Homo sapiens: one gene and its partner. The protein of the gene in region 1 interacts with the protein of each later gene in a pairwise test. Each region holds a gene or a part of one and is shown in the gene's direction. Other genes may lie near its edges. The genes, in order: ROBO2 and OLFM2.

Region 1 (3,013 bases):
GTATAGTCAGTCAAGTAGAAGAGGACCTTCCTGAAATTCCCACTTGTGACATTTTCCCATGGGTTTCCTACACAATCTTAAATTTTATTTCTGTCTATACTTTCTCAAATTTTTCCTATGATAAGTTCAGTTGTTGGTACTCTTCTAAAAATATTCAACGTGATTAGGATCAGTTCTAAAATACGGGACCCCTTTGAGTGACAATTCGCACTCCATGCATTATTGGCTCAGTAGCCAATTTTTGTCACGTCGTTATAACAAGGAGATGACATAATTAAACATTTCCATCCTTTCTATTCCCTGAGACTGCATCAGCACAGGCAAGTATAGAATGTAATGTTCTTCATGGGCCCCACCAGCTTTTTGGTGCCATGTAATTTATTTCTTCGCTGAAGAGAAAAAGAATTCTGAGACACAGTTATTAAACCCTTTATCAACTTTCTACCATCAGTGCCTGAATTCTAATGCAGTGTGATTTCTCTGGGACAAAGAGACTGAGGAAGATGAAAAGTTTCTTCAAAGAGTGAATACATACTTATTCACAACTCTAGGATGTGAGGACTTTAAATATCTCTTTATGAAGTTCCCTGCCTAACCTCTTTCTATTTAAAGGCAAACAAATTTCGAAGAGGTTTTGTGTTCCCTCTTTATGTTTCTCTATGACCCAGTTTAGTCTAAAACCTTAGTTCATTACATATACAACACATAGCCTTTGATCCCTGGTAACTGGCAGGTGTTGGTGATTAATAAACCAAGGCTTCAAAGTGAAGTATGTGTGTGCAGATGACTTTTGGAATAACGTGGGCATAGCATCATACCTTCCTGATTGTCTTCAGCATATAAAAATTAACTGTTGTAGTTAAAATTATGTCAGTGCAGAGCTTGTGGTTACTTGGAATGTTCTTTCAGAATAGTCCATGTTGCCTATTAAACCTAGTTTTAAACACATTGGGCAGTCAATTTATGCACCCAAAATATCACCCTCAGGTAGATTGAGGGCAAGATAAAATGCTGTATGTAGCTATACAAAGGAATTCAGAAACATTACTGGAAAGCAAAGCCTTTGTCAGCTTGCTACTGACAAAGTAGTAAAAAGCTACTAATCAGTGTTGAGTCAGATGTCAACAGAAAAATACAAATACCTATGAGAGCCACAGCAGTTTCTCGTTTCATAGCCGATTCAATGAATATGATTAGAAATTCACTGAGCTCACTCTTGCAGGTTTAAATGGAGGCCTGCATAAGGACTGCAAGAGGAAATCTGGGTGGGAGAGAATGTAATCTGATCTTGCACTCATAGGCAATGCTGCAATGCAATCATGTCCAATACAAGCACAGCTTCATTCATAACAGGAAACGTCTTCTTTGGGAAAATAGCTCTATTGGTGCCCAAACTCAGGTATGCCAGTGTATGCAGGTGGAGTCGCCCTACCCCTCTTCCAAACATGTCCTGTGAGATTTTTAAAATAAGATGGGATAGTACAGGGGCATGAAAAGAATTGATTCCTTCACAGGATTTGAATCCAGTTCAAGGGAGAATGTAGAAAATTCAAAACCAACATATAAGGTATCACACAACCAAGAAAAGTAAAACCATTGCAAGTTTACTTGCGTTGAGTACAAAACAGATTTAATGGTGTTCTATGTCATAGTTTAATGCTCTGGGTATTTAAATATGTTTTCAACAGGATTTGAGTTGAAAGTTTGTAATGTGCTTTGATGGAACACCTCTCAATTTCTATTCAATAAACTTATGTAATTGTCCATTGACAATATAATGATAACAGTACCATTGAACTCTAAACTGTGGTTTATCTTCACTACTGGGAAGCAACTGTGCATCAGTATTAAAGATATGCAGAAACATAATATTCACTAATTTGTTCATCTGCTTCTGTATATTGTTTATGGAATTACATGGCAAGAACTGTTCTAAAGCAACATGTCTTTCCACATTATTTTAGAGGTGAAATTACTTTTGTTTTGCTTCTCTATAATGTGTACTTCAAATGAAACACCATACTTTTTTCTAAAAAAAGATGTTCAATTTACTAATTTTTTTAAATCTCATAATTTAAAAAGCATTTGTTGTGATTTTAAAGTGTTGCAAGAAAAGGGATTTTGTGGCCGTGGGTAGACTTTTTATACTTTGTTTTATAGATGGATTTTTTTTAACTGTAGTTTGTTTAAGTCACCAAGCAGCATCCAAAATCTTAATGTGTTTCATTTGATGTTGTTAGATCAGAGAAGAAATTGGCATAAAATCGGTTAATAGTATTGTCAAAGAATTGTGTATTGTGTACTCACTGGGAAAAAATAAAATATATTCACATTTCAAATTTGTAGAAAAGCCATTTATGTAAAACAAACCTGTTTGTAGACATGCTAAAAAAAGACCAGGTAGCCACTTTTAGAACTCTGCATTAATATTTTGTGACTAAATGCATAATCTCAGTTTTCTCACTCAGTTATGGTTTGAATAGTGATAAATAGGAACTGGTGTTGACTTTTAGTAGTGACTAACAGACGCTGATAAAGAATACAGCAAGCATTTGAAATACAGACCCCATTCTATCAGCACTGCTACTTTCCCCATACCATGAAGACCTTTAGATAGATTTAAAACAAATATCTTATTTTTGAAAGTATAAGTAAATATGAAAATTGAGAGAAAATGAATTTTTCTCAATTGCTTTAGAAGAAATAATTATGAATTTCTTTTATTTTGGATGTTTTTATACTGGATGTTGAAAAGTTATCTCAGGGACTGAGTAGAAAAGAAAAATGCCCCATTTTATTATATTTCATAAATATTGCATTCTTTTTCACTGCTAAGTACAACTATAGGCTCAATTTTTTTTTCCAAAAATAAAGAGAGGCAGTTTCTGTATTCTTTAAAATAATAATACTAGTGACAGAAAAAAGGAAAAAGATTATGGTTAAATCCTGAGACACTCATTGAAAAATATTTTTAAAAATACAAGGTTTAGGACAACACATTTTAGAGTTTCAT
Region 2 (3,628 bases), on another chromosome or scaffold:
GGTTACTGAGTTCTACTGACCAGTTCTCAGGGACTACTGACGTCCAAGTAACTACCCAATGACCAATGCCCTCCCAAGGACAAGAGACCTCTTCCACCAAGCACTGCTCAGTGACCTTCGGACTTCTAGTAGCTTCCATGGTCATGACTGCCCATCACTTAGACACACAAGAACCATCCATGAGGCTGGGCATGGTGGCTCATGCCTGTAATCCCAGCACTTTGGGAGGCTGAGGTGGGCGGATCACCTGAGGTCGGGAGTTCGAGACCAGCCTGACCAACATGGAGAAACCCTGTCTCTACTAAAAATACAAAATTAGCCGGACATGGTGGTGCATGCCTGTAATCCCAGCTACTCGGGAGGCTGAGGCAGGAGAATCACTTGAACCCTGGAGGCAGAGGTTGCAGTGAGCCAAGATCGCACCATTGCACTGCAGCCTGGGCAACACGAGTGAAACTCTGTCTCAAAACAAAACAAAACAAAAACAACAACAAATGCTAGTTAACATGATGACAACAATGATGTTGATGACACGCCTGGTCACCTCATGGTGACAGGGGTTAGTTAACCATGGCAGTGAATTCAAGTGATGTCTTATCATTCAATGGCTGTCCAGTGACCACTAACCACCCAATATTCAATGACCAGGGAATTCCTGGGCCCAGTGACTCCCCAGGGGCTGCAGTTCCCTGGGTCCTTTGGGATGGAGCATTGTCCACTTAGGGTCTGTTTTAAGATCAATAGTGGCCAGGTGCAGTGGCTCACGCCTGTAATCCCAGCACTTTAGGAGGCCGAGGCAGGCAGATCACTTGAGCTCAGGAGTTTGAGACTAGCCTGGGCAACATTGCGAGACCTTGTCTCTACTAAAGATACAATAAATAAGCTGGGCGTGGTGACTTGTGCCTGTAGTCCCTGCTATTCCGGGGGGCTGAGGTGAGAGGATTGCTTGAGCCTGGGAGGTCGAGGCTGCAGTGAGCCGTGATTGTGCCACTGCCCGCCAGCCTGGGAAAAACAGTGAGACTTTGTTTCAAAAGAAAAAAAAAGGCCAGGCGTGGTGGCTCATGCCTGTAATCCCAGCACTTTGGGAGGCTGAGACAGTGGATCACAAGGTCGGGAGTTTGAGACCAGCCTGACCAACATGGTGAAACCCCATCTCTACTAAAAATACAAAAATTAGCCGGGTGTGGTGGGATGCGCCTGTAATCCCAGCTACTCAGGAGGCTGAGGCAGGAGAATCACTTGAACCTGGGAGGCGGAGGTTGCAGTGAGCTGAGATCACGCCACTGTACTCCAGCCTGGGCAACAGAGAGGGACTCCATCTCAAAAAAAAAAAAAAAAATTACTTAAAAAAAAAAAAGACCAATAGCACTCACTGGGATTTGGGTCCTACTGGGGCCATGCAGTTCCCCAAGAAACTGCAGCCCCTGGGGACTCACTGGGCCCAGGAATTCCCTGGTCATTGGATATTGGGTGGTTAGTGGTCACTGGACAGCCATTGAGTGATAAGACGTCACTTGAATTCACTGCCCATGGTTAATGCTGTCACCAGGAGATGATCATGGTCACACTAGGGCCATAATTGGTAATGAATGGTCAACAGAGTTCCCATGACTAATGACCACTTAGTGACTGTTGAACTCTAATGGCTGTAGCTGGTGCTGGGACCCTTGGGTCGTTGGTGGTGGTTCCCCCCAGTGACCAGCGGCTGCTACCATAGGTCTGGTACATGGATGGCTATTACAAAGGCCGCCGGGTCCTGGAGTTCCGTACCCTGGGAGACTTCATCAAAGGCCAGAACTTTATCCAGCACCTGCTGCCCCAGCCGTGGGCGGGCACGGGCCACGTGGTGTACAACGGCTCCCTGTTCTATAACAAGTACCAGAGCAACGTGGTGGTCAAATACCACTTCCGCTCGCGCTCTGTGCTGGTGCAGAGGAGCCTCCCGGGCGCCGGTTACAACAACACCTTCCCCTACTCCTGGGGCGGCTTCTCCGACATGGACTTCATGGTGGACGAGAGCGGGCTCTGGGCTGTGTACACCACCAACCAGAACGCGGGCAACATCGTGGTCAGCCGGCTGGACCCGCACACCCTCGAGGTCATGCGGTCCTGGGACACCGGCTACCCCAAGCGCAGCGCTGGCGAGGCCTTCATGATCTGCGGTGTGCTCTACGTGACCAACTCCCACCTGGCTGGGGCCAAGGTCTACTTCGCCTATTTTACCAACACGTCCAGTTACGAGTACACGGACGTGCCCTTCCACAACCAGTATTCCCACATCTCGATGCTGGATTACAACCCCCGGGAGCGCGCCCTCTATACCTGGAACAACGGCCACCAGGTGCTCTACAATGTCACCCTGTTTCACGTCATCAGCACCTCTGGGGACCCCTGAGCCAATGCTGTGGCTCGGGCTGCTGCCTGGGGGGCCTCTGGGGGCTGGGGGCCCTTTTCATTCTGCCTGTGTCCCTCAAGGGTGATCTCTCTGTCTCTGTCACGCCCTTTCTCCCCGCCTTTTTGCTGGGCTTTTGTTCTCTGCCTATGTATTTCTGTCTATTTTTTCAATTTCCCCTCTTCTCCTTTATTGATCTCTGCTTTTAATACACCACTTCTTTCTTTCTGCCTTTTTATGGATGTCTTTTTCTTTTTATGGCTCTGGTTCTCCAGTTCTTTCCGTCTCTGCCTCTCTCTGTCTCTCTCTCTCTGTCCTTCCACCCCTCCCTCCTTGCTTCCCACCCATTCCTCATCCCTCACTCCCACCCCCACCCCCACCCCCAGGAGTTGAGTGCATGGATCTGTTTCTTTTTTTATTTACACTTTTTCTTTCCGGTTTGCCGGAATAAACAGGACCTTTGACATTTGACGCTTCGGTGACTGTGTGTGTCCAATGGCGACAGAGGTGGAGGTGGCCCCGAAGTCCAAGCCTGGAGACCCATCTCCAGTGAGGATCCCCTTATTCCATGACTCAAGCTTAAGCGAACTGGGGGGAAGGGGTTCCCCAGGGCCAGCCCTTTGGGGAGATGGGTGAGGAGACCCAATCCAAAGTTGTTTTGATCGAAAGCAATTCGTTTAAAAGCAGTTTGATCAAAACAACCGAGAATTCTAGCACAGCAATGAAAACTGGCCTCAAATGAGTATTCTCCCGTCACTGGATTGCCACTCTGCAATCACTGTTGATGCATTACTAAGAGGTCTGGAATTTTTTTTTTCTTTTTTTTTTTTTTGAGACAGTCTTGCTCTGTCACCCACGCTGGAGTGCAGTGGCATGATCTCAGCTCACTGCAACCTCCACCTCCCAGGTTCACACGATTCGCGTGCCTGAGCCTTCCGAGTAGCTGGGATTACAGGCACGCACCACCATGCCAGGCTAATTTTTGTGTTTTTAGTAGAGATGGGGGTTTTGCCATGTTGTCCAGGGTGGTCTTGAACTCCTGGGCTCAAGTGATCCGCTCCCCTCGGCCTTCCAAACTGCTGGGATTACAGGCGTGAGCCACTGAGCCCGGCCAGTCTGGCAATTTTTTAATGGGTTTTTAACAATCGAGCTGGCTTTTAAGAAGCTGAGTATGAAAGAGTAGGGCCCAGCTGAATTTTTCCATTTTCTTTTTTCTCTTGTTGCTTTGTAATTTCA

What was found.
Region 2: the proteins of ROBO2 (region 1) and OLFM2 interact in a two-hybrid assay, tested with the Homo sapiens proteins (one large-scale study listed by IntAct).

What each region holds. Positions count from the first base shown.
Region 1 is NC_000003.12:77,647,626-77,650,638, forward strand, and holds the end of ROBO2 (roundabout homolog 2 isoform 23 precursor), read left to right. Parts: 3' UTR 1-2,339; downstream 2,340-3,013. UniProt on the Homo sapiens protein: Receptor for SLIT2, and probably SLIT1, which are thought to act as molecular guidance cue in cellular migration, including axonal navigation at the ventral midline of the neural tube and projection of axons to different regions during neuronal development.
Region 2 is NC_000019.10:9,852,953-9,856,580, reverse strand, and holds the end of OLFM2 (noelin-2 isoform 2 precursor), read left to right. Parts: intron 1-1,717; coding exon 1,718-2,395; 3' UTR 2,396-2,863; downstream 2,864-3,628. UniProt on the Homo sapiens protein: Involved in transforming growth factor beta (TGF-beta)-induced smooth muscle differentiation.